Linked DNA regions of Homo sapiens. The protein of the gene in region 3 purifies or fractionates together with the protein of the main gene of each other region. This does not show direct contact. Each region holds a gene or a part of one and is shown on either strand. Other genes may lie near its edges. The genes, in order: PLXNA3, CD109 and SCGB1D1.

Region 1 (3,648 bases), on a different chromosome or scaffold from region 3:
AGATCCCCTCAGACACGCTGTCCTTGTACCCTGCCTTTGACATCTACTACATCTACGGCTTCGTCAGCGCCTCCTTCGTGTACTTCCTGACGCTGCAGCTGGACACCCAGCAGACGCTGTTGGACACAGCGGGCGAGAAATTTTTCACGTCCAAGATCGTGCGCATGTGCGCGGGAGACTCAGAGTTCTACTCATACGTGGAATTCCCCATCGGCTGCTCCTGGCGCGGCGTGGAGTACCGCTTGGTGCAGAGCGCCCACCTGGCCAAGCCTGGCCTGCTGCTGGCCCAGGCCCTGGGCGTGCCGGCTGATGAGGACGTCCTCTTCACCATCTTCTCTCAGGGCCAGAAGAACCGGGCCAGCCCACCCCGGCAGACCATCCTCTGCCTCTTCACCCTCAGCAACATCAATGCCCACATCCGGCGCCGCATCCAGTCCTGCTATCGTGGGGAGGGCACTCTGGCTCTGCCCTGGCTGCTGAACAAGGAGCTGCCCTGCATCAACACCGTGAGCCCCTCATCACCCCACACTGGTCCTCTGCCCTGTCCCAGGTCTACCATGCCCAGCGTGGGCTCACGGCCAGTCATCCTGTCCCAGGCTTTGCCATGGCCCTGGGAGTGGCACCTTTGCCCTCCCACCTGTTTCTCCCTCCCAGGGGTCCCTGCCCTCTCCTTGCCTCTCTCTGGGCTGCCCAGTGCCCCACTTCTGCTTCCTTCCGTTCCCAGCTCGTTCCTCCTTGCTCCGTCTCCCGGTTGCCCCTTGTCTTGAGCCAACAAGAGTCTTGTGGGCCCAGGCTTCGCTCCTCGCTCCCTGCTGTCCCTCCTCTGTCTCCCTCCGCAGCCACCAATTTCCTGGAGCACCCTAGGGCGAGCAGTCAGTCCTGGCTGGAGGGGACCGGGTTCTAGATCCCGCTCTCTTCTGGGACACAGGAACTGCCGGCCTCCATCTTGCGCCTGGGAGCTTTGACTCTCACGGGTTCCTCCTCTGTTTCACCAGCCCATGCAGATCAACGGCAACTTCTGTGGGCTGGTGTTGAACCAGCCTCTGGGAGGCCTGCATGTGATCGAGGGGCTGCCCCTGCTGGCCGACAGCACCGACGGCATGGCCAGCGTGGCCGCCTACACCTACCGCCAGCACTCTGTGGTCTTCATTGGCACGCGCAGCGGCAGCTTGAAGAAGGTGGCCCCCAGAGCCCTGGGCATGTGGGGGTGGGGACAGTCTCAGATATGGGACAAGGCTGGTGGGAACACACGGGAGAGCTCTGAGGACAGGACAGGAGAGGACACGGCTGGTGCAGGGAGGGAGATTTCCCTGGCTGGGTCCCAGGCGCCTGGCCCTGCTCCTCGGGTCGCCCCTTGGCCGCCCACCCTCACCATTGCCAGTTCCCACTGTGGACTGAATTGCCAGCTTCGTATGGCTCTGGGGACAGAGAACAGACCTATTGTGGAGTCTCCCTGCCACGAGAGCAGGCCTGGGGCTGAGCCAGCATTGCTGGGTCCTCTGTTGAATGAACAAGGGAGCAAATGCCTTGCCCCTCAAGCCTCCCTATGCCTGGGACAGACCCACTTGCCCCTGCCCTCTCCTTGGCTCACTACTTCCCATCCTTCCCCTCCTACCCATGGGCCCGGGGGCTGAAGCTGCTTCCATTGGGGATCTGGGGGTAGCTTGGCATGAAGGGGGAGATGAACTTCTGGGCACTCAGGTACGTGTTGAATAGGTAGGAGTCGGGGGACTGCAGTGCTCTCATCCTGCTTGCCTCGTAGATGCAGTGCCATCCCCCAGGAGGGCAAGTGTTGGTCTGGGGGCGCAGGGAAGGGTTTGTGGAGAAGGATGATGAACTCTCCTGGCCCACCTGCTCTGTTCCTGGGACCCTCTTTTCCTTTGTAGCAGCTTTGTTGAACGCGTACTATCCAATTCACCCATTTTAAAGTGCACAGTTCAGTGGGTTTCTGTGGATCTGCAGAGTGGCACAACCATCGCCACTACCTCATTCTCCTAATCAATGCCATCTTCTAGCTCTTCCCCTCCCCTGCATCCCCTGACCTTGGGCAACACGAATCACTCCGTCCTTCTGTTTGCTGAGGGCATTTTCTGGCGTCTGCACCCTCCTTTTTTTGGCCTCCGGGCTGTGGGTGTGAGTGCTGAACCCCACCAGGTCCTGACGTCAGCTCAGCCACAACCTCCAAAGTCTTTGGCTGGAGAAGACAGTGTCCCAGGTGCAGGAGGCTGTGGTGGCATCAGGCTGGTCTTGTGGCTCAGGTGCGGGTCGATGGCTTCCAGGATGCCCACCTGTATGAGACAGTCCCCGTGGTGGATGGCAGCCCCATCCTCCGAGACCTGCTCTTCAGCCCGGACCACCGGCACATCTATCTCCTGAGTGAGAAGCAGGTGGGCCTGTGGTGGGTGGCGGTGGGTGGTGGGGCGGGGGTGGGCTGGGTGCTGATGTGGCTGTCCCCAGGTGAGCCAGCTCCCGGTGGAGACCTGTGAGCAGTACCAGAGCTGCGCAGCCTGCCTGGGCTCCGGGGACCCGCACTGTGGTTGGTGTGTGCTGCGACACAGGTGAGGGCGGGGACCCCTGCTCGGGGAGTTGGAGGGCCCCACTGGCCAGGGGGAGCCAGCCACACCCAGCCGTGCCCTTGCGGCCTCCCCCCGCCCTCCTCCACTTTCTCCAGCTAATGAGTGGAACCTCCACCCCGAGTGACGTCCCTCGGGCCCCAGGGGACGCGGCCAAGGCTCGCTGTTGCCTGGCACTGTGAGCTGGACAGGCCTGGGCCCTCCCGGGGCAGTGGCGGGACCGGCTCTGGCCCGACCCCGTGCAGGTGCTGCCGCGAAGGGGCCTGTCTGGGCGCCTCTGCCCCACACGGCTTTGCTGAGGAGCTGAGCAAGTGTGTCCAGGTGCGGGTCCGGCCCAACAATGTGTCAGTGACGTCACCTGGGGTGCAGGTGAGCAGCTTGGGGGTGCCCGGCTGGGTGTGCACATGTGTGCTGGGAGTCCGCCCTGCCCTGAGCCCTCTGCTTCCCCCAGCTGACCGTCACCCTGCACAACGTGCCAGACCTCAGTGCGGGCGTGAGCTGCGCCTTCGAGGCGGCGGCGGAGAACGAGGCGGTCCTGCTGCCCTCCGGTGAACTGCTCTGCCCCTCACCCTCCCTCCAGGAGCTCCGAGCTCTTACCAGGGGGCATGGTCAGTGGGTTGGGGCTGCCCAGGATGGGGCAGAGTGGGGCCTCTCCCTACCCCCAGCGAGTTCACGGCCACCCCGGGACTGCTGCAGGGGCCACCCGCACTGTGCGGCTGCAGCTTCTCTCCAAGGAGACAGGCGTGAGGTTTGCCGGTGCTGACTTTGTCTTCTACAACTGCAGCGTCCTCCAGTCGTGAGTACCTGGCCAGCACCCGTCCCTACCCCTGGGGATAGAGGGGACCTCTGGGACAGGCGACACCTTCAGGGCAGCTGTTTCTGGGGCATCAGGGGCTAACTGTCAGGCCCTGATAGCCCCTGACATCCCCACATCTCTCTGTCCCCTGATATGGCTGCCTTCTTCCTTCAGTTCCCGATGTGTCCTATTGGGGAGCAGTGAGGGGCAGTGCAGCCTCCTCTGTTATTTCTGAAGCCACTTCCCCCCCAGGTGCATGTCCTGTGTTGGCAGCCCTTA
Region 2 (3,648 bases), on a different chromosome or scaffold from region 3:
TCTCAAAAATTATTGGTAGCACTATAATATCCAGATTCAGTGGCCTCTCTCTAGGAGGCATCCAACATCACTGATTACTCCCTTGTTAATATTATGGATTCCCTTAACTTCCGCGGCTCCAAAATAACCCCCTTCACTTCCTACCTCTCTTTCTGCATCCTCTCAGTGTCCTTTTCAGTTCCTCTTTCCTCTCCCTAAATGTGGGAATTTTGGACATCTGTTCTTCTCCCTTCCTCCAAGGTCTCAGCAATCCTATTGCTTAGCTTGTCATCTCTGTGATTGTACCCTAAAGCCAAAATTCCCATCCTTGCCCTTCTCTGGAGTTCATGCCCAACACCTCCAGTTACCTGCAGGAAATTTCTACTTGGATATCCTGGACACCTTGAATTCACATATCTAAAATGAGCAACCATGTCATTTTCCTATTTTCGCTAACATCAGGATTTTGCAAGACTTTACATTTCTGAATTTTCCCTCCCTCTCCCCACCCCCCAAATCCAATGAACACCAAAGTCCTATGCTTCTCTCTTCCATCCTCTCCACTCCCACAGCTACCACCACAAGGCTGCCCATCCCCTCACTCCTGGGCTACAGCCATCCTCCTGCACACAGCCTGAGCAGTCTCCCTCAAACACTACCTGAGTGCACCCCGAAATTGCCAGCCAGACCTCTCCTTCTTGTCTCACTTCTTATCTTGCTCCCCACCTCCCACTCCCATGCCCAAGCATTTAAAACACAACTAATCTTTTAAAAAACAGTTTAGACCATCCTCTTCCATAAAGCATCCCATAGTAACCCCCATGCCTATCCCACAGCCAACTCTCCCCCTCTGAACGCCCATGGTTTCACTCTACTCATTCAGAAATTACCATTTGCAGCCTCAATTTTTTAAACTGACCTTTTCAAACTGCCTAAATTAAGATCATTGAAATCAGAAACTACCTGAAACGTCTACCGACCCATTCAACAAGTGACCCCTCCATTCTTTCTTTGTCGTTTTAGTTGTTTTTTTTTTTTTTTTTGAAATGGAGTTCCACTTTTGTTGCCCAGGCTGGAGTGCAATGGCGCAATCTCCACTCACCACAACCTCCGCCTCCCGGGTTCAAGCGATTCTTCTGCCTCAGCCTCCCGAGTAGTTGGAATTACAGGCATGTGCCACCACGCCCGCCTAATTTTTTGTGTTTTTAGTGGAGATGGGGTTTCTCCATGTTGGTCAGGCTGGTCTCGAACTCCTAACCTCAGGTGATCCGCCTGCCTCGGCCTCCCAAAGTGCTGGGATTACAGGCATGAGCCACCACGCCAGGCCTGACTCCTCCTTTCTTTAAATCAGAGATCAGCCAACTACTGCAAGCTGATAGGCCAATCCAGTATGTTTGTAAACAAAGTTTTACTGGAACACATTCCACTCTCACTTATTTATAAATTGGCTATGGCTGCTTTCACACTACAATGGCAGGGCTGAGTAGCTGTGACAAAGACCACATGGCCACAAAGCTGAAAATATTTACTCTCTAGCCCTTTGCAGAAAAAGTTTGGCAACCCCTGCTTTAAATCCCTACAGAAATTAATTTGTAACACTAATCTTAATCTGCCATGAGTTATAGTTAAGTATATATTTTCCTGTCACCATCACAAAAACTGTGAACCTGAGGGTAGGGACTGAGCCCTTCTTGGCTCTATAGCCCTGCCCAACACCATGCCTTGCTCATTGTCAACATTCACACAATTAATGTGTTAATTCAACATTATCTCCAAAAAATGAGATTTGTTGATAATTTTTTAATGTAACATCTTTGTTAGAACTACAATTAATCATTATAAAAACCAAATTGAAATTGAAATTTTTGACTACCATGTAATTATTTCAATTAATTAATAAAAGCTTCAGTGTAGCAATCCACATCTAACTTAAATTGCTTGTAAAAAAAAATACATTTTCAAAAAATATTTTTACTGTTGTTGAAAACTACTTTTTTAGAAAAAATAGACAAAGGTCATTTGGAAACAAATCTACATGCCCCACATGTCTAAAGAGACAAAGTTATATACTTTTTGGCTTAAATTTTTAGAAAAGCATTGAAAATATTATTTCCCATTCTATTTCATTAAGCTGAACTTACTGCTATGGACTGGAAATAAATATACCAACTTACAGTGGCTGTGAAGTTGAGAGATGGCTTCAAGACAGTAGTATAATCAAAAAACTCAATGATGTAATCATGTTGCTTGAAGAACACATTAGTGCTTACATTTCTTGAAATACCTTTTTTGGAAATTGCACAATTTAGAAAGCAAAAGTAATGTTTCACCCAAAGCTTCTATCCACCAAATCTCTCCATCTAACCTATTGCAAAAAGGGTTAAAAATATCAGGGCACATAAGCCTCATTCCCATATTGACTTTGACACTACAAGCACCACACAGTTCTATTATGTTCTCTATGGATCCCCTCTAAGCACCATTGCTGCCATTCTACCGCAGTGACATGTACAACAGCAGCAAATTAAGGCCAATGAAAGAATAGTCTTTTGCTCTTTCAGGGATTGGCTAAAGTTGTTGAAATAGTAACAGAAAGGTCCAAGAAACTCAACTTTATTTTCTTATTAAAAGTGAAAACTGTCTAGGAACAGCTGAGATTTCAGTGATTTTAAAAAGAAGAAGGTTACCAGCTGAAAATGTAAGCCTTTCCATGTAGTTTTCAGGGGGAAAGAGTAGAAATGGAAAAAAAAATTAAGAAGAGCTATCACATGTGGTTGAAGTAGTGACTTTCATAGAAAATAAGGTCCCCCTTATAAAATCATCCTGCAACTTAGACTAACAGTCATAACAATTTCAACATTAAATAGCATCTTTAGAAAGTCAATGATGCTCCCAAATGAAAGTGCCAGTTATAATAAGAAAGATGATAAAGCAGTGTCACATGAATAGTTTTACCTCCACTTTAAAGTCTACAAACCTGTAACTGATTCTGTCACTGTGGTTAAAATTTCTACTGGTCCAGGGGAAGATAGATCCAGGTATTCAGAAAGTCCATTTGAAGAATCCATTACATTTTTCATCTCTTCATCATTAAAAGAGAAGTTTGCAGATCCATTTATCTGTTTTGTTTAAAAGTTCAGTATTATTTACCATTTTAGCAATTCAAATTTTAGAAATAAAACTCAAACTAAGTCACAACAATATGATAGCTCTGGTACCATTTTAATCGCTATAATTGCATAAATTCTCATTTGTTCAATGCTGGAAAGCTCTTGATTTTCTTACACTTAACTTTTTGTTAATTCAGTACTAAATCTTATTTCTAGAAAAATACACATATTTTACCCATCACAAGTTATAAAGTGTCTGCAAAAGTTACCTTAAATGTTTTTGTAATATTTTTCTTCTTTCCCCAAAAGGATAAAGGTAAAAATGTAAGCGTTACGTCTCCTTTCACTGGCTTCCCATATGTATACCTGAATAATTATAAACATAGTCTTTTTATGTATCAACTTGATATTGTCAGAACACAATAAAAATACTACTTTCAATAGCATACATTAGCAATTAGCAATCTAACATTTTAAAAAATTACATTGGGCTGGGAGCGGTGGCTCACGCCTGTAATCCCAGCACTTTGGGAGGCCGAGGCGGGTGGATCACGAGGTC
Region 3 (3,748 bases):
GAAGGAGGAACATGCAGGAGGCTGTGTGCAGCTGAGTTGAATTCTGCAGGTGAAATGGTAGCACCCACCCTGTGGTCCCAGGTGACCTTCTCAAGCGGTGACCAGTAAGGCAGGTGCCCCACCACCTGTGTCCCTCACAGAGCAGCAAGCAAGCTGACCTCACTTCACACTGTGCCGCTGACCAGAAGCCTGGACACATGAAAGAGACAGAAATTACCAATGTTTTTGTAATTAGCACTCTTTTCTCATAGGCCATCGTATCCACGCATTTCTTCACTTCCATCTTGGCTGCAACAGCTTCCAGAGGTGCCTTAAATTTGGCAAGTTGGAACTTGAACACAGGTTTTCCAGCTAATAAGAAGCCTGTGATTTCAGAACCAAGAGCTTGGCAGACCACTGCATTTGCTGGAGCAAAAGAATAAAAATATAATTTGTGTAAGGAAATCAGTGTTTCTCCCATGCCTCCCTGATGTCAGACCAGACAGGAACCCCAGGGTTTTAGGCTTCTATTCAATAACTATGCCAATGACAATGTCAGACCCAGGAGGTTGTGACTTCCTTGAGGTCACACAGCAAAGGGTAGAGCTAGAACTGGAGAACCAACTTCCTGATCACTCATTCAGTCTTTGTTTTTTTTTTAAAGCACACTCATTACTTTCCAAAGCTTCTCTGGATGGATGGCCAACGTTCTCTTTTCTAGATTTGAAAATAATCACTTTTCTATGCCAGTTAAGTGACACTTTATTAGTCTTGGACATTGGTGAAGAGGAGGCTTTGAGTAATCAAATTTTGAAGTGGAATGGTAGAGTCAGAATCCTATCAGAAATTAGAGAAATGAGTAAATCTGGAACAGAAGAAGTTAAAATTATTGAAATGTTGAAGGTGATGTTTTGAGAACAAGTTGTAGAATTTAGGCTTATGTGATTCAATACAGACAGAGCTAAAAGGTAAACAAATTAAAACAAAATAAAATAATGTGAATCAGTTTTAACACACATTAGAAGCTTATACAGGAAATTGTACTTGGCCCATATTCTGCAGCAGCATCTAGAATATTTGGAGAGGATGAGAGGAGGGAACTGAGGCTCATTCCTGCTCCCACTGGGAATTTTGGAAAGACCTGGAGTAATCATTTTGCTTGGTCTGGAATCTCCATTCACCTAAGTCTTTTGCAAACACCATGCATCCAGAAAGCGCCCCACCATGCTCAACATGACCCCTGACTACCCGACTTCAAACTGTGGGGAGAATTTGGAGAGGGTAGGATCGGGGTGTCACAGGGAAACAGGGAGAGGTTCAGAAAAGAAGAGGAAAGAGAAAAATCAGAGTCTGGATCGGTCCTGACAGGGGAAAGGAAAGTACCCAAATGAACTGGGGAAAAATCAGCCAGAATTAATTTTAGAAAAATAGAAGTTCTGAGGCTAACCATTGTAGTATTTCTACCACCATTACGGTAGGACCCCTAGAAGATATATTGAGTGCTGCTTATTCTAAGAATTCATTTGCAGGCTTCTTATTGAGAGAATCAGAAAGCACCATCTCTTCTTGGACTGAGAGTTCTCCAAGGATCCTTCGAGATGTAACATTTTATGAGTCTGAATTTACAATGTAAGAAGCTGTGAGCTCAATTGGCACCTAAAGGTCTGGGGACGAGAATGTCTGACAGTACAGTGATTGGCTTCACATCCACAGCTAGACCCTTGGCACAATAATCCCACTCCATTCCCATTGCCACTCCCGGAAGAAGCTCTAAGCACCAGAGATAGGAGGAGGCGCGGGGAGGGTGAGCATCTTGCCCACGGTGAAAGGGCTGAGAAGTGGCTGAGCCCAGAGTCACCCCAGACCTCACATTACATCATCTGACACAGATCCCATCCAAGAGTGAAGCTCAGGCAGAATTCCTAACGTTCGCCTGCATTGATTTTCTGCAAAACTTCCTAGGTACTGGGGATTTGATGAAATGAGGCCCGAGCTTTATGAGCAGTTCCTTCAACAAGCACAGGATAAGGTTTGGAATTTTGGTTTGTTCCAGACCCCAACCTTAACCTTAATAGGTGACCTCGTGCTCAGAGAAGGGTGTGTCCCAAGGGCTGGTGCTGGACTCATGACTGATGTACTCACCCCGGTAGCAGCAAAGGGCCAGCGTGAGCAGCAGGAGACACACCGACAGCCTCATGGTGGCTTATTCTGCTGTGAGCTCGGCTTTAACCAATGATGAGTGATTTAGACTCAGCCCCGGGAGCCTGTGGAGCCGTGGAGCCCAGGGCTATTTGTACCTAGGGAGCCTGGCTGGTCCTGCCCACATGGGCATCTGGCAGGTGATGAGGCCTGGCTTCCAGCCCTCCCTTCCTAGCCAGGGCTGCTGCCATCCATCAGTGTCACATCCCCACACCTCCCTGCATCCTGAGTGGGGCGGAGCACGGGAGGGCAGCCCTGCAGAAACTCTGCTCTGTGCTCCAGGTGAGTGTCCAGGTGCCTCTGGCAATGTTCCCTGGAACCTCAGTTTGCTTTTGGGCTTTTGAGGATTATCTCTCTGTTCTTTATGTCAGTGCAAGGGCAAATGTGAGTTCTCATTTCAGGAGGACAGAAACCGGGGGTGCAGGAAGCTAGGGGCTGTGGTTTGGTTATAGGAGAGCAGGCACAGAAGAGACCCCACTTTGACCTCCACTGCATGTCTGACAATCAGCCACACGTGTTTCAGCTGCACATAGATCAAGTCTGAACCAGACCTATCCTCCCACTCAGCCCCTTCCATCCCCACCATCTTCACCACATAGGTACCTAAAACATAGCTGCATACACCCCACCTTTGGAGGATTTCCTTGGGGAAAACAACCACTCCCCCTGTCCTCTACTCTGTCTCACTCCAAGATCTGTGTCTTTATTTATGGGTGGAGTTGTCAACATAGCACAGGTTCAAATTTTCTGTCTACTAAAAGCAAGCCTCCAGTGACCTCTAGCCACCCATATCTCCTCATAGGGCTGATGGGATGATTAAATTGCCCAACTTTTTTTACCCAAGGAGCTGCTGGGGTGTCTGGAGGCAAACAGGCATCAGAAATACTGGTCTTCGCTTCTAGGCAGGGACGATAATGGAAAGGAAGAGATGGATGAACAGGGTGGGTGGTCACTTCCCTCTAACCTCTGGGCTCAAGTTTTCCACTTCTAACCCAGCTCTGCTGCCTGGGTCATCTCATTGTTGATGGAAAGCGAAGGCCATCCCCAGCAAAAGCAATAGACACCCTTCTGCCCTTCCACTGCAGTGCCATCATTTGGTGAGTAGGAAATCACCAGAAATTTGGCTCTTAAGTGAACACACATTTGAGAACAGTCACAGCCCAGGCCAGAGCTTTCCATTCTCTGCTCTGCAATCAAATCACTTGGGGCTCTTAAACTATACTGACTCCCCGCAGGCTGCTTCCCTTTCTGGGGATTTTGATTCAGTAGTTCTAGGGCGAGGTCCTCTTCTGTTTAAACTGCTCTGGTGGGTCTGATGGGCAGCAGTACTGAGAACCACCCAGAAAGACCTTTATGAAGGAAGCGGACCTTATGGTCTGTGTCATCAGAGACACCTTGGCAGGTCTGGCTGAGTCCCAGCTGAGGGCGACAATGCCTCTCACTTCCATCACCCAAAATGGTGGGGAAGCCCCTGATGCCACCTCTGCCTCCAACCCTAAGGAGTGGAAGGTCCAGTGGCAAAGCCCATGGCTAGGAGGGTTCAGATCCATGTCTATGGGCTATTGAACCC

What was found.
Region 1: the proteins of SCGB1D1 (region 3) and PLXNA3 purify together in Homo sapiens (co-immunoprecipitation; 3 studies listed by BioGRID and IntAct, with this or other methods). This does not show direct contact.
Region 2: the proteins of SCGB1D1 (region 3) and CD109 purify together in Homo sapiens (co-immunoprecipitation; 3 studies listed by BioGRID and IntAct, with this or other methods). This does not show direct contact.

Annotation. Positions count from the first base shown.
Region 1 is NC_000023.11:154,461,133-154,464,780, forward strand, and holds part of PLXNA3 (plexin-A3 precursor), read left to right. Parts: coding exon 1-506; intron 507-995; coding exon 996-1,178; intron 1,179-2,258; coding exon 2,259-2,387; intron 2,388-2,457; coding exon 2,458-2,558; intron 2,559-2,818; coding exon 2,819-2,942; intron 2,943-3,024; coding exon 3,025-3,181; intron 3,182-3,269; coding exon 3,270-3,369; intron 3,370-3,621; coding exon 3,622-3,648. UniProt on the Homo sapiens protein: Coreceptor for SEMA3A and SEMA3F. Necessary for signaling by class 3 semaphorins and subsequent remodeling of the cytoskeleton. Plays a role in axon guidance in the developing nervous system.
Region 2 is NC_000006.12:73,762,191-73,765,838, reverse strand, and holds part of CD109 (CD109 antigen isoform 1 preproprotein), read right to left. Parts: intron 3,456-3,648; coding exon 3,359-3,455; intron 3,099-3,358; coding exon 2,957-3,098; intron 2,264-2,956; coding exon 2,154-2,263; intron 1-2,153. UniProt on the Homo sapiens protein: Modulates negatively TGFB1 signaling in keratinocytes.
Region 3 is NC_000011.10:62,188,713-62,192,460, reverse strand, and holds the start of SCGB1D1 (secretoglobin family 1D member 1 precursor), read right to left. Parts: upstream 2,246-3,748; 5' UTR 2,177-2,245; coding exon 2,122-2,176; intron 406-2,121; coding exon 218-405; intron 1-217. UniProt on the Homo sapiens protein: May bind androgens and other steroids, may also bind estramustine, a chemotherapeutic agent used for prostate cancer. May be under transcriptional regulation of steroid hormones.